7 linked regions of the Homo sapiens genome follow. The protein of the gene in region 6 purifies or fractionates together with the protein of the main gene of each other region. This does not show direct contact. Each region holds a gene or a part of one and is shown on either strand. Other genes may lie near its edges.

Evidence for each region.
Region 1: the proteins of NKAIN1 (region 6) and ATP11C purify together in Homo sapiens (affinity purification with mass spectrometry; one large-scale study listed by BioGRID and IntAct). This does not show direct contact.
Region 2: the proteins of NKAIN1 (region 6) and ADCY6 purify together in Homo sapiens (affinity purification with mass spectrometry; one large-scale study listed by BioGRID and IntAct). This does not show direct contact.
Region 3: the proteins of NKAIN1 (region 6) and ATP12A purify together in Homo sapiens (affinity purification with mass spectrometry; one large-scale study listed by BioGRID and IntAct). This does not show direct contact.
Region 4: the proteins of NKAIN1 (region 6) and ZDHHC9 purify together in Homo sapiens (affinity purification with mass spectrometry; one large-scale study listed by BioGRID and IntAct). This does not show direct contact.
Region 5: the proteins of NKAIN1 (region 6) and PARP16 purify together in Homo sapiens (affinity purification with mass spectrometry; one large-scale study listed by BioGRID and IntAct). This does not show direct contact.
Region 7: the proteins of NKAIN1 (region 6) and C3orf33 purify together in Homo sapiens (affinity purification with mass spectrometry; one large-scale study listed by BioGRID and IntAct). This does not show direct contact.

What each region holds. Positions count from the first base shown.
Region 1 is NC_000023.11:139,730,554-139,734,053, reverse strand, and holds part of ATP11C (phospholipid-transporting ATPase IG), read left to right. Parts: intron 1-1,528; coding exon of another isoform or gene 1,529-1,618; exon of another isoform or gene 1,619-1,619; intron 1,620-2,298; coding exon 2,299-2,400; 3' UTR 2,401-2,403; intron 2,404-3,500. UniProt on the Homo sapiens protein: Catalytic component of a P4-ATPase flippase complex which catalyzes the hydrolysis of ATP coupled to the transport of aminophospholipids, phosphatidylserines (PS) and phosphatidylethanolamines (PE), from the outer to the inner leaflet of the plasma membrane.
Region 2 is NC_000012.12:48,779,090-48,782,589, reverse strand, and holds part of ADCY6 (adenylate cyclase type 6), read left to right. Parts: coding exon 1-19; intron 20-3,500. UniProt on the Homo sapiens protein: Catalyzes the formation of the signaling molecule cAMP downstream of G protein-coupled receptors. Functions in signaling cascades downstream of beta-adrenergic receptors in the heart and in vascular smooth muscle cells.
Region 3 is NC_000013.11:24,686,908-24,690,407, forward strand, and holds part of ATP12A (potassium-transporting ATPase alpha chain 2), read left to right. Parts: intron 1-1,411; coding exon 1,412-1,615; intron 1,616-2,354; coding exon 2,355-2,468; intron 2,469-3,430; coding exon 3,431-3,500. UniProt on the Homo sapiens protein: The catalytic subunit of a H(+)/K(+) ATPase and/or Na(+)/K(+) ATPase pump which transports K(+) ions in exchange for Na(+) and/or H(+) ions across the apical membrane of epithelial cells.
Region 4 is NC_000023.11:129,809,387-129,812,886, reverse strand, and holds part of ZDHHC9 (palmitoyltransferase ZDHHC9), read left to right. Parts: exon of another isoform or gene 1-66; coding exon 67-169; intron 170-1,377; coding exon 1,378-1,481; intron 1,482-1,885; coding exon 1,886-1,982; intron 1,983-3,500. UniProt on the Homo sapiens protein: Palmitoyltransferase that catalyzes the addition of palmitate onto various protein substrates, such as ADRB2, GSDMD, HRAS, NRAS and CGAS. The ZDHHC9-GOLGA7 complex is a palmitoyltransferase specific for HRAS and NRAS.
Region 5 is NC_000015.10:65,257,599-65,260,241, forward strand, and holds the end of PARP16 (protein mono-ADP-ribosyltransferase PARP16), read right to left. Parts: intron 1,948-2,643; coding exon of another isoform or gene 1,945-1,947; coding exon 1,809-1,944; 3' UTR 501-1,808; downstream 1-500. UniProt on the Homo sapiens protein: Intracellular mono-ADP-ribosyltransferase that plays a role in different processes, such as protein translation and unfolded protein response (UPR), through the mono-ADP-ribosylation of proteins involved in those processes.
Region 6 is NC_000001.11:31,237,088-31,241,190, reverse strand, and holds the start of NKAIN1 (sodium/potassium-transporting ATPase subunit beta-1-interacting protein 1 precursor), read left to right. Parts: upstream 1-1,303; 5' UTR 1,304-1,643; coding exon 1,644-1,697; intron 1,698-4,103.
Region 7 is NC_000003.12:155,775,279-155,778,778, reverse strand, and holds part of C3orf33 (protein C3orf33), read left to right. Parts: intron 1-2,930; coding exon 2,931-3,078; intron 3,079-3,500.

The sequences.
Region 1 (3,500 bases), on a different chromosome or scaffold from region 6:
GCTGGTGTCAAAGCTCTCTAGATGACTGCAAAGGAATGTGGAAATTTCATTCTGTTTTAGCTCATTATCTCCTGTTTACCCCACCCCACTGCCGGTTGCTAGCTATATCAATTTTTTTATTGCTTTAGTTACTCTTTCCATGCTTTCTCCTGCTTTCTGTACTTTCATTTCCTTTATAAAGTAGTTTTAACACCTAATCTATTAACTCCTAATATTTCTGCTTCATAGAAATACTTTTATCTCCGATGGTTGGATACAAGTGTTTGAGCACACCAAAACGTGCTTACAGTTGCAGTCTTGAATAGATAGGTTTGTGCATTAAACACGGGGGTGGGGAACTTGGTATCATGCTGATCTTGTCGCAGGGTTTTTGCCCATAAAATAGAAGATAGAAACAATTAAAATCTTTTTCTCAGAATCTAAATATTCTCTAGCTTTATCAATTGGTAATTTGCATTCTATCAATATGTCTATCAACTTTCTTCATTCCACCAACTTTCTTCATTTAAGGTAAAAACAAGAAAAAATGTAGTTGTCAAAACATGAATAAATTATTTACCTTTGAAAGTTTAATTGTTTATTAGAATCTTCTGGAAACAAATGTTACTTTAGCTGGTTTCTTTTTCTAAGCCCATTTTAGGTCACTAAGTAGACAATATGGGTAATCTTTATTAGCAGAGTTGTTCAAGTCATCCACATTGTTGACCACTCATCTTCTGTTTTGCTTGGGCAATGCCAAAACTGAGTCTGTAAATTACCTTATAATTTCAGGCACAGAATCAGAAGGAAAAAAATAACCTTAGGTTTGCCAGTTAAACTTTATCCATTTTCACTTTTCTGGGTGTTTTAAGGGGAAAAAAAATAATACCTTACCCAGGTAAAATTTAGCCTATCTTTCTAAAGAGGACTCTGTAGGAAAAACAGGGAAACCAATCAAATTAGGTTGTAAGAAAGGAAGTTAAGCATTGGTCAGAGGCAAATGGGACTGAAATGTGGTATCACCAAATGTTTTCCCATTGTTATTTTTGATTAAGTTTTTATCCTGCAACTGCTTAAGAGCAGTCAGTCCCTTCATAGTGTATCTGTACAGTTGCATAGGGGAGATAATTACTTCAAGATAGATTGGTGATTGGCAATGGACCCTGGACATAACTCTTTGACCAATGGATTTTGAACAAATGTAGGATAGTGAATTAATGATTAGAGATAAGTCTTATTTTAACGAGAAGCATATTTTAAAGCTATTTTATTTAAAATAGTCAATTTTCCCATTAACAAAATAATTTCAAATTGATATGTAGAGAAATAGTAGTTGGCACGTAATAATAGACTATTCCTATCTCTGACTCTGCTTTTACTTCAGAAAATAATGTCTTCAAAACTAACATATCATTTCGGCTTCGAATTCTCAAGTTTTCTTTTTAAATGTCTTACATTTGAGAGATTATTTACTTTTTTTTTTTTTTTGGTTTCTGCATTTCTCTTTTTTCTACTGCAATTTTCCACCTTTTGTGCAATTGTGAACAAGGTAACGAAACGCCTCCCTTCCTCAGGAACATCTGCTATCTTCATGCTTTCTCAAACTTCCAGCAATCACAGTTTCTCTTGGAGTGAATAAGGTGATTTCCTTTCTTAATGTACCAACTTGCTTGCATTCTCATTTGCCTGACACCATTTTCTAATTCTTTATGAAAAATTACTTCTCATGACTCATTTTATATCTTCTATTGATGCTTAGAGTATTTTGTCATTTTCTTTTAATCATGTGTTCACCTTCCAAATTGTCACACTGGAGAGGAAGTAATTTTTAAAAGCTTGGACTACGGGTCTGTAGTCTTCATTGATCCACGGTATGCAGTGGCCATGGCGTGTTAGAGCTAGTCTGTTCACCAGGACAGGAATGTTTTGCACAAATTTCTCTTTGTTTGATAATACGGCACCGGCACAACTCTCAGAGGTGTTCACCAAAAGGATGGTAAGGTTTACTAATCAAACCATATTGACTCATCTTACCATATTACTTACCAGTGCCATTCCAAAAACCCAAGTTTACTACATACTACTGTTGTCTGTTTACTTCTACCACAAAAACAATTCGAGTTGGAGACTTTCTTAGGCCTTTGAATGTATTCATTTGAATGTTATACATTTACTATATAGTGTAATCATTTGTACTTTTGGCCAGAGGAGTAGTCTATAGGAAATGATTTTTTTCTTTTACCTTTTTTTAAATATATAATCACCAGGTAGGTTAACCAATTTTCAAATGCTTTAAGTATCTTTGCCTCACTATTACAGAGAAATCTGAGCTGTAGAAGGGCATCTGACTCATTATCCGCCAGACCTTCAGTCAGACCTCTTCTTTTACGAACATTCTCAGACGAATCTAATGTATTGTAACAGGTACCTAGTGTTAAACAAATGGGCTGGCTTTAAAAAATCGGATTAACAGCATTATAAAGAAAAAATGAAAATATCACTCTCTAAATTTTCTCTGCTGTTGGTGTGGTGAACTTTACAATATTCTTTGCAAAAATATAAAGATGCATTACTTGGAATATGGGGAAATATGCATTTAAAATATTAAACATTAAAATATGATAAGCCCCCCAAATAAAATGTTAAACATTTTTCAGAGCCAAATGTTGATACAGCATATTTAATTTGTAAGGGGCAAGTTGTCATGGCAAGGCCACCATGTGAAAATGTTTGTTAATATTGATCAGGAAATATAACTTTGATTTATAAAGATCATTTGGAAAACTAAAAGTAAATATTCCAAAATTGCATCTGTATAATATCAAGCCAATTTAGCATTGCATGTTCTCTTGGGAATTATGTGAAAATAACTAAATGTGTTTGTACCTTCATGTGCTGTGTCTGTGTGTTTGCAGGTACTGTATACACTTATGTCCTTGTAAATGTCTGATCTCCAAATATATATCAATGAACCAGTCTAATCATAACTTTTTTAATGTCAAGTTTTATTCAAGCTAAATGTTTCAACTTTCAGAGGTAAAATATTTCATAGCCATTCAGGGGGATGCTTGCCTAATGATATAAAATGCTTTATAATTAATGTTTCCAAAAATGATTAAATTCACTTTATAATGTTTCATTTACCCCCAAAAATATTTGGGAGGAATTGATACGCCGTGGGAGGGCCCCTTGAACTCAGAATGACTCCTTTATGTATAGTCTGTATTTCCTTCAGTGGGGGCCTTTAACAACTCAGACCTCTGGAGGTCTTTTATCCATCCATAGGAATTTAGAGTAATTAATGAACAAGGCTTCCAAGCTTGTCAGCTTGGAAACAACTCTACACAGCTTAAAGCAGGGCCATCTTTCATGCACACATAAAAATTAATGATCATCATGAATACAATTGTGGGTTAGTTCACTTTGAAGCTAATAATTGCGAGTCCACCTTATAGGCCCATTTTTTTCAACAGCTGTCAACTCTGCCACCCTCTAGCAAAGAATACAAGTTAAATTAATGG
Region 2 (3,500 bases), on a different chromosome or scaffold from region 6:
TGCCTTCCTCTGGAAGCAGGTAGGTGGCCAGGGAGGTAGGGATGGAGGGCAGCAGGTGGGGAATTTCTCACCTCATAAGCAGGTGGGGGCTTAGTGAGGAAGGGCGGGTGAGTCATGGGTGGAAGCTGGGTGCAGGGATGTCTGGCTGTATCTGGGAGGAGGAGCAGGAGGTGGGAGGCTAGGGTTGAGGGGTCTGCCTCCATGTGGGATCTGGGGTAGAGGACACTGCTGAGGGGAGGGAGGGCCCCAGGACCCAAGCCTGAACTCTGTCACCATGGGCCCCAGTCTCCGGCTCTTTAGCCCGCTGAAATAGTGCAGTCTGTAGAGACAGAATGTGGGGCTGGAGGCAGGGGTGTGGTATATAGCCCCAGGGCCACCGTGGGGCTGAAAAGGCAGTGCAGGCTGTGTCCAGGCCTTAGCATCTCAGCAGGCAAGTTGACACCAGAGACTGAGGCGCTGGTGCTATCCCTGAAGAGCAGCTCTAGGTGGTGATCTGGAGGTATAGAGCAGGTTTTGGATGTTGTCAGCAAGAGAGGAGTCCCCTCTTTCCTGGACCAAGGCCACTTCTGGGAGGACAGGGAAGGTGAAGAGCTGGGGTCAGTTCTCTCTGGGCTGGATGTGGTTTGAATGGGGTTGGACTGTTGAAGAGAGGAGCGTTAAGTCTGATCGTATCCCACCTTCCCCATGCTGGGCACCAGGGACCTGGGCGCCTTTCCTTGAGGTTCTCTGTCCATGCCTGTTGCTGCCTCCAGGCTCCAAGTGTGTGTGAGGTGGGACTCCACGGCTCCGTGTGGAGTGGCTGTAGGCTGACCTGCTTATCCAGTGGGCTGTATTCTTTTCTGTGGGATCTTAGACAACTAGCCTCACCTCTCCCAGCCTTAGTTTCCCAGTCTGCAAAGCTGGAATAAAAATAGCATCTAGCTCATGTTGCTGTTGGGGCCCCACCCTTTCCTAGAGTGGAGTAGAACCCGACTGGGCAGTGTTCACACCTGGGGGCAGGGAGGTTTGGGGAGTGCTGGAAGGCATGGTACCCAGTGAAGGGGTTTCTGGGAAGTCCCTTTCAGAGAGATGTTAGTTTGTGGATCTGCCATCTCCTGTTACCCCCCTGCCCAGGGAGCAGAGGCCAGGGTCCTTCAGGCGCTGCTGTAGGCACAGCCCCGCCATCAGCACAGCGCCTGGGTCCTCCACTGGACCCTAACTAGAGAGTGCTGTCTTGCTCAAGGTTTTGAAGGCTTGTGGCCTGTTGCCCACCCTGCCTCAGGCACAGAGAGGAAGTTGCCTGGGGATCCCAGGGTGAGAAGCTAGGTTCTCTGGCATGATGCCCTTCTCCACCCAGCCTGTGCTGCAGAACAGAACTTACCTGTTTTTTTTGTGGTTTTTTTTTTTTTTTGAGACGGAGTCTTGCTCTGTCGTTAGGCTGGAGTGGTGCAGTGGCGCGATCTCAGCTCACTGCAACCTCTGCCTCCCAGGTTCAAGCGATTCTCCTGCCTCGGCCTCCTGAGTAGCTGGGACTACAGGAGCGCGCCACCATGCCCAGCTAATTTTTGTATTTTTAGTAGAGACAAGTTTCACCATGTTGGCCAGGATGGTCTCGATCTCTTGACCTCATGATCCACCCGCCTTGGCCTCCCAAAGTGCTGGGATTACAAGCGTGAGCCACCGCACCTGGCCAGAATGCCAGAATGCCAGAACGTACCTTTTTAAAAGTAACTTTATAGCCCGTTTGTTTGTGGAGCACGTGCCCTTAGGGCACTGTCAGACATCTTAAAGGGCCAGGTCCTTCTGCCCCAAAGCTTCTCTTCCAGGGTGGCTCTCAACCAGGGCTTTATGGCTGGACTGCCCTCCTGGGGAAGGAGCTTAGAGGTGGTGTCTCCTTTCCCCCTTCCTCTCTGGCCAGGCATGGGCTGGGTGGGCATCTGTTCCCTGCTCTCGACTGGCATGGTGCCCAGAGCCAGGCCCAGTGCCTGACTGGGGAGGTGCAGTCCCAGGGAGGCCAGGACTGTGCCCGTCTCCCCAGGAGTGTCTGGCTACAGCTTCATGTAGTGGATCTCGATAGGCACATTCTTGGGGCAGTGGCGAAATTCACTGCTGCCCCTGTGCCAGTCCTTGGGGCCAGAGCTGCCCATACAACTTCCTCTGGGCTGAGAAACATTCCCTGTGCCCATTTGGGTATGTGGGTTTCTAGACAGGTGGGGTTTGTGGCCTCCTTCCTCGTCTACTTGGGCAGCCCCTTCCCAGATCCACCCCTACTCACAATCACAGGAAGGAGACTTTGTCCCCTACCGACCCACTCATTTAGACATACTGAACAGTGTCACCCAGTGACCCAGGCCCAGCTTGGAGTCTCCTCCGGTCCCCTGGCATCCATTTTTTCTCATAGTCAGATAGGGATGTGTGTGTACAGAGTTATTTCAGTCTCGTCCCCCTTCCCCTTCCCTCCACCGTGACTCACATTTTCCTCTTGGGCTCCTGGGGCCAGGAAGGGAAGTTGCCTGGTTTGCCCCCCTTCCCTTCTCCCCCACTGGGGGCTATTCTTAGAAACCCCCAAGGGAGATAGTGTGCCCCTCTCTTCACCCCTGCTGCTGGGAGGGGGAGCTCAGCCTAGTTGATCCTGGGCCTGTGAGCTGGACTGGGAAGGGAAGCTAGGAGGCCCATCCCAGAGGCTGGAGCTGGAAATGGCTAGGGGTGAGCCAGGCCTCCCCCTCAGTTTTACCCAAGAGGAAACTGAGGTCCCAAAGTTTAAGTGACCTGCCCAATTTTGCAGGACTAGTTCTAGTTCAAGTTAGAGCCCAGAACCTCTGGCTTCCAGGAAGTGCTTCTGCTGTTTCTCTCCCTTCTCCTTAAACCAGAGCCCTGCCCCATCCAACTCTGGGGTGGAGCCGCAAGCTCCAGGTTAATTCCTGAGTTTCCAGAAACACTGAGGCCAGCTTCCCTTAGACTTGCTCTCTAGCCAGTGCCGCTGATGATGATTGGGGGCTGAACATTCCTAGGGTGGGGCCCTAGGCCTAGGGCCTGGCAGGGCTGAGTGTCAGAGGGAGTTACACCTTGAGGGGTGGCCAGGCATGGTGGACCCCATCTCCAATTAGGGGACATCCTTTGTATCAGTAGAACTGATGACTCTCAAGCCAGGGCTCTGAGGTTGGGCTTGAGAGCTTGACTCAGTAGAGTGAGTAGGAATCTTGGAAACCTGGAATGCACTACAAAGTATGGAATGCAGTAGATAGATAGTAGGATTAGGACACAGGATTTGGAATCTGATTGTCCTGGGTTCAAGTCTCACACTAGCCACTAACAGCTGTGTGATCTTGGGGAAGTTACTTGGCCTCTCTGTGCCTCATTCCCTTACCTTTAAAATGGGATATTGTTACCTATTTCACAGAGTTTTAAGAAATGTGTTAGGGGCCAGGTGCGGTGGATCATGCCTGTAATCCATGCCCGTAAGCACTTTGGGAAGCCGAGGTGGGCGGATCACTTGAGGTCAGGAGTTCAAGACCAGCCTG
Region 3 (3,500 bases), on a different chromosome or scaffold from region 6:
GGGGCAGGGAGGTGAGAGCAGGGAAGGCAGGAGGGTGGAGGCGATGATGAACTTATTGTGAGTTATACCAGGAGAAGTCTCTCCGGAACACCCCTGAGGAAATGTTCCACAGTTATTCAGAAAGATGAGTCTGGGGTTCTGGAAAAGGAATTGGAGTGGAGGGAGATGGGATCGAGGTGGTGAGCCTGAATCTAGCCATTCAACAGATATTTGAATCACTACCACAGAAAAAGCATGAGACCCGGGAGAGAACACAAAAATGACCAAGACTGGCCTGTCATGGTGGCTTAGGTCTGTAATCATAGCACTTTGGGAGGCCAAGGTGGGCAGATCACTTGAGGTCAGGAGTTCGAAACCAGCCTGGCCAACGTGGTGAAACCCTGTCTCTACTAAAAATATTTTAAAAATTAGCCAAGTGTGGTGGCCGCTGCCTGTAATCCCAGCTATTTGGGAGGCTGAGGCAGGAGAATCGCTTGAACCCAGGAGGAGGAGGTTGCAGTGAGACGAGATCGCACCAGTGCACTCCAGCTTGGGCAACAGAGCGAGACTCTGTCTCAAAAAAAAAAGACCAAGACAGAGTCCTGCCCTTTAAGTAGCTTACAACATAATTAGGGAGAAGAGGTATCTACAGACTTGTCCACCAAAGATCGTCTGTGGGGGAAATTCCTGTGAACATGTAGGGTTTCAAAGGTGAGGGTGCCTCACGGATGGCAGGCCCCCCAGGGCAGGGGCTGCTCACATGGGCTCAGGGCTTGGGTAGGATTTATGCCTGTCAAGATGAATGAGAACTTAGGCTGGATGTGTAGAAAGGTGGAAAAGGAGCAGGCGTAAGGATGGAAACTAAAGCCACATGCTCTCTGTGCAGGATTCCAGAAGCTTCCCTATTTCCTGGGGAGTTACTGCATTGCCCTTAGCCCTGGTGAGCAGCTTCTTCATTCCAAGTCCTCCTTCATCAAATTAGTCCTCTCACCGGATAAACCTCTAAGAAACTAAAACCCCTTAGCAGAGCAGAGTGCAGTGGCTCTGGACCCAGTCACCACGTTGAACCTGGTCGCTACCATTGACAGGCCAGGTCCCTTCGACAGGTTACGTAATTTCTCTGTGCCTCAAATTCCACCTCTGCGAATGACGAGAGGGAGGAATAATGGCCCCTGCCTCAAGGGTTATTTTAAAGACTAAATGAGTGAATATACAGAGCACAGTGCCTGGCTGGTATTAAGCATTACATAGTCTTTCAAAAAAGCTGGGCAGCTGGAGAAGTGAGGCACGGTCTGCTTTTCTCGGGACCTTCTTTGGCCACGTTAATGCCTCACCCCAAGCTGCAAAAATATGCAGCCCAACCCCTGAGGGAGGAGGAATGTCTAATTCGTATTTGTTTTGGTTGTGCATGTGCTTTGTTTGGCTTTCCCAGGGTCTCTCCAGCACCAGAGCTGCCGAGCTCCTGGCCCGGGATGGGCCCAACTCCCTCACCCCTCCCAAGCAGACGCCTGAGATCGTCAAGTTCCTCAAGCAGATGGTGGGGGGGTTCTCTATCCTCCTGTGGGTGGGCGCCTTTCTCTGTTGGATTGCATATGGGATTCAGTACTCCAGCGACAAGTCTGCATCCCTGAACAACGTAAGGCTCTGGGGTGTCCCCTCCTGGTTTTGCTGGCAGAGCCATCCAGTGAGGCCTTGGGGGCACAGCTGGGGGCTGAATGCCACTGCCTAGGTGTGGGAAAGTCAGGCATTTTCCCAGCTGTAAAACAGAAATTCTATCTGGCTTTCTGATCTTCTAGAGGCAGTGTGGGCATGAAGAGGGATACACAAAACACCTTGAATTTTTAAGGGGGAGAAAATCTGCATCCATGTGAAGTAGTTTGGGGTTCTGTCTCCCCCAAGCTAACCTCTTCCTTTAACACGGAGAGCAGCTGTGCCTGCCGAGACATGAGTACCAAATCCACAAAACTGAATTGGCCAACGTGATGCCAAGAGACAGAAGCCAGAGGCAACAAGCTACATGTCATAGGATTGGATTGACATGAAATGTGCAGAACAGGCACATCCTTGGAAGCAGGAACCAGATCGGTGATGCCAGGGCATGGGACAGGAGCAGGGAGTGACGGCAGAGGGGCCGGAGGGATCTCCAGGCAGGATGGAGATGCTCTGAGGCTGCGGTGGAGGGTGGTGTCATGGCTCTGTAAACTTAAAAAAAAAAATCAATAAGTTGCGCACTTAACATGGGCGAATTCCATGGCCTGTAAATTATACCAGGGCGTAACTGCCAGCATTGCATCCTCCCGTGGAGAGCTCTAGCCCCAGGGCCCGGCTGCTTCCCACTGCTGGTTTCTCTGACTGACGCCCTCCTTCTCACCCAGGTGTACTTGGGCTGTGTGCTTGGTCTGGTGGTCATTTTAACGGGGATCTTTGCTTATTACCAAGAGGCAAAAAGCACCAACATCATGTCCAGCTTCAATAAGATGATCCCTCAGGTGAGTGGCAGCCACCTATCCTCTGGCCTCTGGTGACTCCCAGGTGAGGAAGCCTCAGCTGGGAGGGGCACAGGGCCCTGAGGGCTACGGGTTTCCACTTCCTTCCCTGTCGGAGCAATCGTGGGCGAATTAACCCATCTGTCAGAACCCCAGTTCCTCACAGGATTTTGATGGTCAAATGAGGCACCACCCAGGGCAGTGCTGGTTAGCCCAAGGCATCTTCTGTTCCTGCTCCTCAGTGTTTGTGGATAGTCCTTCTGGGTTCTGGAAGGGACCTGTGGAAGGTCAGGGAGTGTTCTTTCACTGGCAGCCAAGGAGACCAGCCTGCAATTGTTTATCTGTGACCATTTTTGCTCCTGAGCCCCAGAATGCATTTGGTGGGGAAGCCCAGTGCTCCCTTCTTCCCCAAAAACCCCTGTCAGGTGTCCACACTGTCTCTGGCCCAGAGAACTGTGGGCTGGAGAGATTCTGGGTGGAAAAGACGCCTCCTGCCAAGCTTGAAGCAGGAGATCACCTCGTTAAAATTTCCCTGACACTCGCAAGATTATCAGCCTCCCCAGCCCCACCTTCAGTGTTCTGCCCAGACGCCCAGCCAGGATTGCTCACCCTTAGTGGTCTCCTTTTCTAGGAGGCCCAGGGCTCTGGCTTGGCCAGATCTGGCCAACAGCGACTCTTCTGTTCCAAGAACTCTCCATAAGCTCAAGAAAAAGTAGTTCTTAGAGTCTTCAGGCCTCGGGTGAAGCAGTCTTCTGTTTCATTCTTGCTGTTCTGACAGCCTCATGCTCCAGCAGCAATGCTGTGTCCACAGGGCCAGGTGCAGGCTGCATAACAGCATGGACTCAACAGTGAGAGTGATCAGGAAGTTCCAAGGCCTCTGTCCTGGGGTTCGGTGCGGCACAGACTTGGGGGAGGGCCGGTGTCCTTCCAGGGTCTGAGGCATCTGTCATGGTTTTTTTCTGCAGCAAGCTCTCGTCATCCGAGATTCCGAGAAGAAGACCATCCCTTCAGAGCAGCTGGTGGTGGGGGACATTG
Region 4 (3,500 bases), on a different chromosome or scaffold from region 6:
GAATATGGGCGGAGGCATCAAGTCTCCTGATGTTGAGTTCTTCAATACTCCTTAACCACACCTCACTGTTCTAGAAGTCCTCATTTGCTTCTTTACACTCTGGTCCGTCGTGGGACTGACTGGATTTCATACTTTCCTCGTGGCTCTCAACCAGACAACCAATGAAGACGTGAGTCAACTTTCTCTTCTCCTCACCACATATTCTTCTTCCCAAAGCCTATCCTCTTGCTACCTGCTAGAGAACTACCGAGTCTCCAGGGCCTGGGAGGTTGAGGCAGGCAGAAACGTGGTATGCGAGGTTGTTAAGTCAGATGTGTGGAAGAGAAAGGAGAGGGCTTTGTTGAATGCTTGTGGAGCATTAGGAAGAAGAGGTTGAAAAGTTGGGTGGGTATACAGCCTTTAACTGTTCACAGGTCCTTAAAGGCTAGCTGGTGCCTCTGTTTGGCATGGAGAGGGACAGTTGCACTGGATGAATCCTTGCTATATAAAAAGTTACCAATTAGGCTGGGTGTGGTGGCTCACGCCTGTAATCCCAGCACTTTGGGAGGCTGAGGCGGGCGGATCACCTGAAGTCAAGAGTTCAAGACCAGCCTGGCCAACATGGCAAAACCCTGTCTCTACTAAAAATACAAAAATATAGCCGGATGTGTTAGTGTGCACCTGTAGTCCCAGCTACTCGGGAGGCTGAGGCAGGAGAATCACTTGAACCCGGGAGGTGGAGGTTGCAGCGAGCAAAGATCACGCCACTGCACTCCAGCCTGGACAACAGAATGAGACTCTGTCTGGAAAAAAAAAAAAAAAGTTAGCAATTAATCTACATTCACTGTAGAAAATCAGAAAATACAGATGAGCAAAAAGAAAAAAGTAAGTTCCTCTTACTTTACTTCTTAGACATCACCTTTGTTAGTAGTATGATTTATATATTCTAGACTTGTCTAGACTTTTTTCCATGTTTATTTATGTGTTTATATTATGTACTTTTAAATAAAAATAGTATATATCATTCAGTTATCTGCTTTTTTCACTCTATTGTGAGTATTTTTCATGGCTGTGTATGTATTTCTTTTTTGTTGTGATAAAATATACATGATATAAAGTGTGCTATATTAAATGTCTTTCAACCCTGGCGATCAATGGGGTGACAGTTGTTGCAGCCAGATCGCCCTCATATCCTAAATGTACAGTTCAGTGGCATCACATTGTTGTGCAACCATTGCCACCATCCATTTCCAGAACTTTTTTATTATCCCATGCTGCATGTGTTTCTTCAACATTATTATTATTATTTTTCTTTTTTGTGTCTGTTTTTAATTTTATTATTATTATTTGTTCATTTTAACATTATTTTTAATGTCAGCCTTGGTTTTTATCTTGCAGATCAAAGGATCATGGACAGGGAAGAATCGCGTCCAGAATCCCTACAGCCATGGCAATATTGTGAAGAACTGCTGTGAAGTGCTGTGTGGCCCCTTGCCCCCCAGGTGCTCAGGGCACTCAAAAGTCCTGGGACTGTTGGGATGAGCAGCTCAACCTGATCCTGTTACCTTGTCTGATGTGTTTTTCTGAGTGTGGCCTCTTGGTGTCAAATAGGTCTTTCCAGGGCTTGCCACTTGGTACCATGTCTACATGGACCATAGACCATGGGCTGGTTGTTTTGGAGGGATGATCTTTCATTCTTAATTTCATTTGTTTGTTCCCTGGTTAATGTGACATTTCCTGGTTTGTGGAAGAAAAAGTGAATGGGAGATAAGAGGCATGTGCTGTGTTCAGGCTAGATTGCCAAAGGACAGGTTTATATTTTCCAGTCTATGCAGCAAAATTCCGTAGGCCAGGTGGGTGGAGGGGTGAATGCCCAGTTCTTTGTTAACTCTCTTATCTCCTTCAGTGTGCTGGATCGAAGGGGTATTTTGCCACTGGAGGAAAGTGGAAGTCGACCTCCCAGTACTCAAGAGACCAGTAGCAGCCTCTTGCCACAGAGCCCAGTAAGTGTTCCTGACTTAAGGCTGGGTCGATATAGAGAGGGCGGAGGCTAATTTACAGCTTGGAAATATAATTAGGCAATATTGTATTCTAATCACCCCAGCTTCCCTGCCTCTACACCTGCCCTGATGTTGCCTTCAGATCTTTGTGTCCTTGATGTAGATTAAGATTTAGTCATTTCTTTGGTGTATATTGAGTGACTCTGTGCCAGCCACTGTACTAGCTGCCAGGGTTATACCAATGAATGAGGCAAACGATGTCCCTGCTCTCAAGGAGCTCATTGTCTAGTGGGGGCAAGAAACAAGTAAACAGGCCATTGCTCAACATTGTGAAAAGTGCCTTGATGAGGAAAGCATAAAATGCTATAGGGGCAAAGACAGAGGTCAGGGGATTGTATTAGAGTTAGTGATGTGGTTACTGTGGTAGAAGGGGGCTTCCTAACTGGAATATGCAAAAGTTGTGGAAACTCTCCCAGCTGTCCTATTTAAGATATATAAAGTATATCTTTAAAGTATATAAAGTACTTTCCTAAAAAAAAATATTACTTGAGCTTTTTTTTTTGAGATGGAGTTTTGCTCTGTCACCCAGGCTGGAGTGCAGTGGTGTGATCTCGGCTCATTGCAACTCCACCTCCCAGGTTCAAGCAATTCTCTGCCTCAGCCTCCGAGTAGCTGGGATTACAGGCGCCCGCCACCATGCCTGGCTAATTTTTGTATTTTCACTAGAGACAGGGTTTCACCATCCTGGCCAGGATGGTCTGCATCTCCTGACCTCGTGATCCTCCCGCCTCAGCCTCCCAAAGTGTTGGGATTACAGGCGTGAGCCACCGTGCCCAGCTGAGCTTTCTTTTTTTAATAAGAACTTTATTGAGATATGATTCACATACCATAGGTCCCAATTTTTTTTTTTTTTTTTTTTGAGACGGAGTCTCGCTCTGTCACCCAGGCTGGAGTGCGGTGGTGCAATCTCAGCTCACTGCAACCTCCGCCTCCCGGGTTCTCCTGCCTCAGCCTCCTGAGTAGCTGGGATTACAGGCATGTGCCACCACGCCCAGCTAATTTTGTATTTTTTAGTAGAGACGGGGTTTCTCCATGTTGGTCAGGCTGGTCTCGAACTTCTGACCTCAGATGATCTGCCCACCTCAGCCTCCCAAAGTAGAGGATTACAGGCGTGAGCCACTGCGCCCAACTGATCCCTATTTAAAATGTATGATTCACTGGTCTAGAATATTCACAGAGTTGTACAATCATTATAACAATCAATTTTAGAGCATTTTCGTTACCCTTCCACCCTAAGAAACCCTGTAGCCATTAGCAGTCACTCTCCCTTTCCCCTGAACTTCCCCAGCCACACCCCTAGGCAACCACTAATCTACTTCCTTTTAGTACAGATTTCTCTCTTCTGGGTATTTCATGTAAATGAAATCATACAATATGTGGTCTTTTGTGACTGGCTTCTTTTACTTAGCATGTTTTCGAGGTTTGTCCATGTTGTACTATGTAGCAGTACTTCGTTCCTTT
Region 5 (2,643 bases), on a different chromosome or scaffold from region 6:
CAGCCTGAGTGACAGAGCAAGACTCTGTCTCAAAAAAAAAAAAAAAAAAAAAAAGTAGATAAGGCCTGTTGTGAAAATTAACCAGTATAGTAAGGTGCCTTGCAATGTTACATGTGTCACCTGAGTATTTTCTGACCCTAGACCATGTTAGGACTCCTTGCCAAGTATTTCCCTAAACTTTATAATACCATAAACTCCCAACCTCACTCTTGAAATGTTTGTCCATCTGCCCACCTTGCAGGCTGTCAGCTCTGTGAAAGCAGGGGCTTTCTGACTTTGATCCTGCTCGTATTCCTAGTGCCTGGCATACAGTAGGTACTCACGTTTGTTAAGTCATTAACTAGAAATCCAACACCTCCTAGATATCATATCCTGGTGATATATGCTCTCCAGCAAACAGCTAGTTTGAACAAGGAAGGATGGAAGATAAAGTTTTTAACAACAAGGCATATAGGGCAGACTCACACTAAGGCTAAAAGCACTCACAAAGGCAACTTAAATCATTAAGAAAATATCTTTATTTATTCTGAAATGTTCCAATAATCAATGTAAAAACTGTGGTAGTGGCTCTTTCACAACTTTACAAATTATAGAAAAATGATTTTTCCTCTTCTTTACAGAAATGTCACTCCCAAATCGTACCGGGCCCTATTATGGCTAAAACCCAGCAGGAAGAAGGGAGCAGAGAATACAGCAAGCAGGGCTCCGGCTCTCTGGGTGGCCAGAAGGCTTTTCCTACACATTAAAGCCCAGGCTGAGTCTCAAAGACCTGTGACCCCTCTGAAGGAGGCTCCATCCACATGGATCTGTGGCACACTGGGGCAGGCCTCTGTCTTGAAGGCCAGTAGGCCACAGAAGACCTGAAAGCATGGCACTCGTGGTTGCAGGCCACAGTCAAGGCAGCTTTGTGAGAATGAGAACAGGAGGCGAGCCTATAGCTCAAATCCCTTTCTCTAAAACACAGCCAGAAAAGAGGCTGTGGACACTGGCCAAACAGTGCACTAGGTTTAGAAATTTCCCCTTTTACTCAGCAAAGACTAATTTGTTAAACAGCTATTAAAAAAAAATCAGAAAACAAACATTTGGTTCCATTTCAGCTGTAATCAGCAGTTGGTAATTTTTGGAAAAAGAGCAGTTTTCTCATCTTGAGTTGCTCATTAAGTCTGTATTTTTTATCAGGCCCCTGACTCCTTTCTTTCTCATCCATGGTTTTTTGGGGAGGGGGGCAAGTACAGCTATAGGAGAAGGCTGTTTGTTGATTTGAGAAAACTGTTAAAATGTTTTGCACTCACATACAAAGGCTGATGGAATTCAAAAATGATCCCACTGATTTTTATGAGAAACATGACTGTTCCTCTTGGGTGTCTCAAGTCAAAACAAGGCAACCGCCTAGTGATTTATAGTTCCCACATTTTCCGCCTTCCAGAAGGCATTAGAGAAAGGGCCAACCTCTGCCAGGAGAGATTGTAAACACACCACTGACAGCTTGGACACTTTGTTTTTAAATGCAGCAGGGCTTTTTCCTTTGGCCCTGGCTGAAAAGCCAACTCCCTAGGACAGTTTAAGAAGGAGCAGATGGAAGGACTCCCCTAAAACCTAAGAGTGAGGGACTAGTAGTCCCCGTTGACTGGAGTATGGCTGGGAACATCATCAAAGGCAATGGATACATTTAGGCCATATGAAAATTGTCCTGTGGTCCCCCAACTGGCCCCTAGGCTCAACCTGGCTGGACATGAGGCATAGGAGGTACAGAACAAGTTACCATAAGGCACATAGTTGAGGTAGCCCCCACACCAGGCCCAGAAAGATTATCTTTTCGCACGATTCCAAAAGTGTTGGAAAGCAGAGGAGTTGATGACACTCACTATGAGCAGCAGCAGCAGATACAGGGATATCATGACGGTAAACCAATGGCTGGAAAACCAGGAGAGCTGGCTCGAAGCCCTGCTTAAGAGGGAAAAAAGAGTGGTGTTGGCAAAAAGAGAAAAACATTTTTTTTAAGTGTGTACAACAAGTCTGGCTCTAAGAAGACAAAATGATGAATTTCATCCTTTGCCTGAGCCATGAAATGAAGCTTCGTGCTTCCTTGCTCAAGAAACCTGGGGCTGTTTGCCCAGGCACTGACACGCCTTTCAACAGGATATTTTCTAAATGCGCAAAGACAGCTATGCAATGAGCTCATCCTGATCTTCCCTTTTGTAGCTCCTCTTTTACCATTTACAACCCATCTTGGTATCTATAACAATGACCTAGCTCAGGGTGTCTGCCCAGATGGTGGCAGGTGGCAGGTAATTTAGCTGAAGTCTTTTCACTTTTAGACACATGCAGATATAAATCCAAGCTGGGGAAATCCTCTTTGGCCCACTAGGAGATGATCTAAACCACCCAAGTGTGCACTAAAGAGATGCTCCAGGGAGAAGTGGGAAAGGAATGGAATTTTCAAGGATAAAAAGTTAGATGATTTTAAACCAAAGCATAATGTCACCTGGACCCAGGCACCCTATATACATTTCCCAAATTTGGACAGGGGTCGGGAGGAGACTTTACTGGTTTATGAAGTCTGGAAGCATGGAAACCACTGGTGTGTACAAGCAGGAGTGGGGATTATTTAAAGTGACCCCTTTTCCTGTCATATCTACTTAC
Region 6 (4,103 bases):
ACGTTGGCCAGGCTGGTCTCGAACTCCTGAACTCAGGTGATCCACTCACTTTTGGGAGGCCGATCTCCACTCAGGTGGAGGTTGCAGTGAGCTGATTCAGCCTCCCAAAGTGCTGAAATTACAGGTGTGAGCCACCGTGCCACGTTTCTTCTTTAATATTCTTTAGAGTATTCATCAGAACTTTGCGTATTTATTTGTATATTTCCTTGTTTTAATGACAATCCCTCACTAGACTGTGTGCTCAATGAGGGCAGAGATTTTGTCGGGTTTTGTTCCCTTATCCCCAGCAGAGAACCTGGCACATAGTGGGTATTTCATAAATGTTAGTTGGAAAGTACAGTTTATAGAATGTAGTGACAGATCAGATGTAATTGTAGGGAAGCCTGGAGGATGACCTAGGAAATTCCACTTGGGTGATGCTAATTGCCAAGGTGAATATAGGAAGTTAGGAGTGGGACAGGAATGATTATGTGGATTTGAGATGTGTCCAGTTCGAGGGCTTTTGGGGGTGGCTTGGAGAAGGCAATCTTCTGCTGGGAAACTTCTGACTCTGTCCCTACTGCAGCCCAGGGTAGGGGCTCCCTACCTCCACCTGGGCAGATCTCTGCCATCACCCATCTCACTGGCGTGCTCTTGGGAGCCTATCTGTTCCCTGGGCGGTGCAGCTCTACGGGATTTGGAACAGTGTTGCAGGTCTCATCTCTGGCTCGCAGGGCCCCCAGGGGTGTGTATGCAGTCAGGGCTCAATAAATGCCAGTAGACGGAAAGAAGGAAGGCGAAAAATGTGGCCAGACACTCAGGGGAGAGGCTGGGGTGAGGAGCAGATCTGGGAACGTAAATAGAACTAGAAGTCCAAGTTGGAACCCTGGAGCCCTAGAGACAGGGTGGACAAAAAAGTGTTCCAAGCCAGGAGGCCAGGCACAGGGCTAAGCGCTTTATTCACATGACTGCATTTCATCTTCATATCTACACTAAAGAGGCATAATTATTCCTACTTTGTTCATGAGAAAACAGGTCCAGAGAGGTGACGTGATTTGCCCAAGGTCACACAGCGAGTGAGCAGCAAAGTCTGGATTTGACTCAGGGCTGTTGTCCCCTAAGCCCGCACGCACTCTTCCACTTCACTCCCTGCCTCTCCAACCCTCCACCTCCCTATCCCTCTCCCCTCCCCTCCGGCGGCTCCCCCGCCCCACCCCTCTGCCGTTCCCCCCAACTCCCTCCCTGTCGGTGGCGGCGGCGGAGCCACGTGGTGGGGCCGGGAAGCCGCGGCCGACGAGAGCCCGGGCGACTGCCCCAGCTGGGCAGTGCTGCTCTGCGCTGCGCCGCGCTCGGGGCTCGCTCTCCTTGCTCCGCGCTCCCCGCCAGCCGCCCCGGGGCAGGAGGCGCGCCTGACGGACGGCCCGCTAGACAAAGGAGGCGCGGCTCGGCGGGGCCAGCGCGCGGACGGACGGACCATGGACTCGGAGCGCGGGCGGCCGGCCCCAGCCTTGGGGACCGGACACTCCCGGGCCCGGCCCTAGGCGCCCGGCCCCGCCGCCCGGCGCGCCCAGCGGGGAGGACGTGGAGCCCGCGCGGCGCGAGCAGGCGGCGGCCGCGGAGCAAGAAGGGCGCCGCGGCGTGCGGCCCGCGCAGCCCCCGGAGCCATGGGCAAGTGCAGCGGGCGCTGCACGCTGGTCGCCTTCTGCTGCCTGCAGCTGGTAAGCGTCGCGTGCCCAGGCAGTCGGGGCAGGGTGGGGCGCGGCGGGGCGCGGTCCCAGGGCGTGCGGGTGGGGTTGCGTGTGTCTCTGTGTGTGTGTCTGGTGCGTGTGCCCGGGCGGGGGGTGGTCTGGAGTCTCGGAGCGGTCGGGCGGAGCCTGCTCCCGCTGGCCGGGCTGTCTCTTTGTGTGCGCTTCTCGCTGCTGTGCCCGGCGCTCCTCCGGTCCCCAAGTGCGTCCTGTGCGCGAGTCCCCGGCCCGCCCGCACTGTACAAGTGGCCTCCTGTTGGGGGATGCGCTGTGGGACGGTGGCTTGCTGGGACTGGGGGTGTGTCTGAGGCTGATCTGTGGATCCGTTGAGGTCCTGCTGTGTGTTTCCCTCTAGATCCCTCGTTTGCATGGGTCTCTCCCTTCCTCTGGGTCTCTGCCTCTGATCACCACCCCTGTGTGAGCGTTTCTCACAAAGTCTCTGCTCCGGCGTGTGTCTCTCAGGGTTTCTCTTTGGTGTGTCTCTAAATCGCTGACCATTTCTGGCCCATGTTCATCTGTGTTCTGGGATCTTAGACTCCAAGAACCCTCCAATCCTTTGTGTTGTTTCTGCCTCCCTTCACCTTCCTGACCGGGCAGTCCTGGGAAAGGAGAGCCACCTCCCTGGAGAGGGTCACCAGGAGCTGCCAGATCCTGGGCCAGCCTGACCCAGCCTGGACCACACTTCCTGCTTTGGTCTGGCCGCTGTGGCCATGGGGGTTCCATCAGTCATCAGTTCCACCCACCAGAGCAGCTCCTCTGCCGGGGCCAGCAACAGTGGGGATGGGGACACTTGGGTGCCCTAGGGAGGACCAGAGCATCTGAGGACACTGTGCCTAGCCCCAGCATAGGGAACTCAGGTTCTTGTCTCAGGGAGGAGTGACTGTAGTGGACTAGAAGAAACAGCACTGCCCTTCAAATCAGGCCCTGGCAGGGGAATTTGGGAGGGTGGTTAAGGAGAGGCAGGGGTCTCCTACCTACCCTAGAGCTGAGATTGAACAACTAGGGAGGTTGAAGCTGTGCTTCTCCTCTAGGCAGAGGTGCATGGGGACCTCCATCGCCGAACCCAGGTCTGAGAGTGGGCAGCGAGGAGCCTGAGCCCCCCTCATGCTGGACTCCTTGTTCTGGGTTTCCACTCTTGCCTGCATCCATCACGCCCTCCCCACCACAGGAGCCAATGATAATGTAGAGTGAAGTTTTGAGCCTGGACATGCAGACCTCCTCATTCGTCTTGCTTCTCTCCTCCTGGGGACACCAGCTTCAAACATGCCATCCACAGACCTGGCCTGGGCAGTGGTGGAAACAGCCCTAGCTCTGGAGATTGTAGCCCTGCTCCCAGCTGTGGGAGACTGGACAAGTGACTTCCCCCCACTGGCCGGCCTCAGTCTTCTTATCTGTAAAATGATTATCCCTGAGGATTGCAGAGGGAATTAATTAAGATCAGGTGGAATGGGAACTCCAGAAGGGCAGAGATTGTCTGTTTTTCTTTATCTACTTTGAGGAACATGAAATGCCAAGAAATGTTTAAACCTTTCAGAGGATTCTTCTGTGTTTGTTAATTTTTTAATTTTAAACTAGGGGTTTTTTTTAATTAGAAAAGTAATATACATATATTGTAAAAAATAAATACATACATAATCAAACAGGACAGATAAATAAAAAGTAAGTTTTCTAGGCCAGGCATCGTGGCTTATGCCTGTAACCCCAGCACTTTGGGAGGGCGAGATGGGCAGATCACCTGAGGTCAGGGGTTCGAGACCAGCCTGGCCAACATGAAGAAACCCCATCACTGCTGAAAATACAAAAATTAGGGGTGGTGGCACGCATCTGTAATCCCAGCTACTCGAGAGGCTGAGACATGAGAATCACTTGAACCCAGGAGGCGGAGGTTACAGTGAGATGAGATCACGCCGCTGCACTCCAGCCTGGACGACAGAGTGAAACTGTGTCTCAAAAAAAAAAAAAAAGTTTTCTTCTCTCTATAACTAGACCCCTCCCCAAAGGTGAACCTGTTAGCAGTTTGTCCCATGCTCATTCTCTGTTGGCGATAATAACGGTTAGCTTTGGAGAGCCCTTGACTAAGTGTCAGGTACTCTTGGAAGCACTTTTCCAGGTATTAACTCATTTAATCCTAACAGCCCTATGAAGTAACTTGTCCAGAATTCTACAGGAACTAGGACCCAGGCTTTGTTTTGGGGGTTTTGTTTTTGTTTTTGTTTGAGACATGGGCTCACTCTGTCATCCAGGACAGAGTGCAGTGGTGCAATCATAGCTCACTACAGCCTTGACCTCCCAGGCTCAAACAATCCTCCCACCTCAGCCTCCTGAGTACCTGGGACTACGGGGGCACACCACCATGCCTAGCTAATTTTTTTGTGTTTT
Region 7 (3,500 bases), on a different chromosome or scaffold from region 6:
CCCTTAGTGTTTTCAGTAAACCATGTTGGGAACCATCTGACTATGTGCATATTTAATCTGTATTTCTCTGTTTTTCCCATAAACTTGTCATAAGCAACTTTGTCCTGTGATTCAAATTCTTTGTGGTTTGATTTAGCATTTCTCCTCTCTTTCATTTATATTCTGCATATTTCACATTCTTGAGTGAATATTGACAGTAGATCCAGAATCTTTTTCCTCCCAACTTTTTCTCCTAAAAAATTTTGTCACATTCATTTTCCTTTCACCTAGATTCACCAGTTGTTAACATTTTGCTACAGTTGTATTCTCTCTTCCTTTGTGAAACCAATTCAAAGCAAGTTGCAGACATCATGAGACATCATCCATAAATACTTCATAGCGTACTTCCTAAGAGCAAGGATTTTTCCTACATACCCACATTAATATTAGCACATCTAATAAATTTAACATTTCTGCACCAATCTTACATAAAATAAAGTTCATATTCAGATGTATTTTCTAAAAAAGGTCCTTTATTGTTTTTTTCCCAATCCAACATTCAAACAAGGATCATGCATTATATTTACTTGTTATGTCTCATTAGACTCCTTTAATCAAGAATATTACCCCTACTTGTTTTTTTTTTTTTTTTTTTTTTGAAATGGAGTTTCACTCAGGCTGGAGTGCAGTGGCACGATCTCAGCTCACTGCAACCTCCACCTCCCAGGTTCAAGCGATTCTCCTGCCTGAGCCTCCTGTGTAGCTGGGACTACAAGTACGCACCACCATGCCCAGCTAATTTTTGTATTTTTAGTAGAAATGGAGTTTCACCATGTTGGCCAGGATGGTCTCCATCTATTGACCTCATGATCTGTCCTCCTCGGCCTCCCAAAATGCTGGGATTACAGGTATGAACCATCGCATCTGGCCATTACCCCTACTTAAAAACAATTTTTTTCTTTCATGATGCTGACATTTTTAGAGTCCAAGCCAGTTGTCTTGTAATATGTTCTATAATCTGAATTTGTTTCTTGCCTTGTGAGATTCAGCCTAAGCATTTTGGCAAGAAGGTGATGATATGTACTTCCTAGTTTATGACATCAAAATTCATGAGGCAGGAGGATTGTTTGAGCCCAGGAATTTGAGATCAGCCTGGGTGACAAATAAAGACCCCATCTATACAAAAAATTTAAAAATTAACCAGGTGTAGTGGTGCACACCTGTAGTCCTACTTGGGGGGCTGAGGCCGGAGGATTACTTGAGCCCAGGAGGTCGAGGCTACAGTGAGCCAGGATTATGCCACTGAGCTGCAGCCTGGGCCACAGAGCGAGACCCTGTCTAAAAAAAAAAAAGATCTGTAATGTTAGTTTGTCCTTTAATATTATCACAGCTAATAAAATTAACAATAATCTCTTAGAATCATCTAATACCCAGTCTGTATTCAGATCTTGATTGTCACTATGATTTTTTTTTTAATTTTTTTTTTAGACAGAGTTTCGCTCTTGTTGCCCAGGCTGGAGTGCAATGGTGCGATCTTGGCTCACTGCAACCTCCGCCTCCCAGGCTCAAGCAGTTCTCCTGCCTCAGCCTCCCAAGTAGCTGGGATTACAGGCATGCACCACCACGCCCGACTAATTTTGTATTTTTAGTAGAGATGAGGTTTCTCCATGTTGAGGCTGGTCTCGAACTCCTGACCTCAGGTGATCCTCCCGCCTCGGCCTCCAAAAGTGCTAGGATTACAGGCATGAGCCACCATGCCCGGCCAATTGTCACTATGATTTTTAAAAATAGATGATCTATTCAAATAGTCTATATATTTTATTTATTTCTTAAATCTCATTTATTTTATAGTATCTTGCCACCCTTTTTTTCCAATGCCATTGATTTGTTGGGAAAACCAAGTGATTTATTCTATAGTATATTCCACATTCTGGGTTTGTCTCCTACACTATTCTTGGTTATAAAAATCTTCAGTTCAACCTTACTGTCATAGGAAGTTGGGTACTAATTTATTCTTTTTTTTTTTTTTTTTTTTTTTTTGACAGAGTCAGGTTCTCGCTCTGTCACCCAGGCTGGAGTGTAGTGGTGCTATTATGGCTCACTGTAACCTTAAACTCCTGGGCTCAAGTGACCCTCCTGTTCTGTGTTACCATGCCCAGCTGATTTTTACATTTTTTTGTGGAGATGGTATCTTGCTATTGTTGCCCAGGCTGGTCTCAAACTTCTGGCCTCAAGTAACCCTCCAACCTAAGCCTCCCAAAGTGCTGGGATTATAGGCATAAGCCATCGTGCCTGGCTTTTCCTTCTGTTATGTGAGCCTCTTAACTAGCCATAATTATGAACAAAGCTTATGGTATTGTTAACGTGGAAAAAATAGGCATAAAGTGTTGATTGATTCCAGGATATCACCTAAGTGTTAGGGATTGTAGTACAGTCCTAATGTTGGCCTTTTTTTCGTTTTTCTTTTTTAAATGTGCCTTTTCTCCTACAAGATAAAAAAATGATAGTAAAAAAACCTGGTTGGTTAAGGTTCTAACTTAATTTGACTGAGCTTTGTTTAAGTTTTCCCGTCAGTATATGCATGAATAGATTGTACTTATGTGGAACAAGCTAGAGACTGTTTAACCAGATTTGTGTGGTGCCAGGCATAGATAGATACTCAATGTCTTTTGATGAATTGTGTCATATTTTGAGGTTATAAGCTTTTAGAAGTTAGGAGTCTGTTTAATGTCTTTATGTGGTTGGCTTGAAAATGGTGAATAATGATTTGTAAATAATGTTTCCATAAACACTTTTGATTAAATCATATTAAAGTAATATAAAATTAGGAACTAAATTTTAAAATGTTCATGGTTATGTACTCTTGTGAAATGTTTTGATAATTTGACATTTTAAATTTTGAGATGACAATAATAATAAGTGGTTATATTTTTCTCCCTGTAAATCAATAGACATCAAAATTTACAAGCTCTTCGGATATTCCAGTAGAATTTATAAGAAGAAATGTTAAACTACGTGGACGATTACGCCGAATAACTGAGAATGGTTTAGAAATTGAACATATACCTATTACTTTACCTATTATAGCTTCATTGAGAAGTAAGTAAGGTACAAGATTAATGAAACTAACTATTGTGGTCTTCTTTTATTAGAAGTTATTTATAAAATAGCAAAAAAAAGTCATTTTAATTCCTAATAACTCTCCATTGTCCATGAGAAAGTCTCAATTCTTGGCTTTATATATAAGGAGGTGGGAGGTGCTTAATTTGGCTCAGATTTCCTTTCTTCTTTCGTTCCTTTTTTTTTTTTTTGAGACAGAGTTTCACTTTTGTTGCCAGGCTGGAGTGCAATGGTGCAATTTCGGCTCACTGCAACCTCCGCCTCCCAGGTTCAAGCAATTCTCCTGCCTCAGCCTCCTGAGTAGCTAGGATTACAGTCATGCACCACCACGCCCAGCTAATTTTGTATTTTTAGTAGAGATGGGGTTTCTCCATGTTGGTCAGGCTGGTCTTGGACTTCTG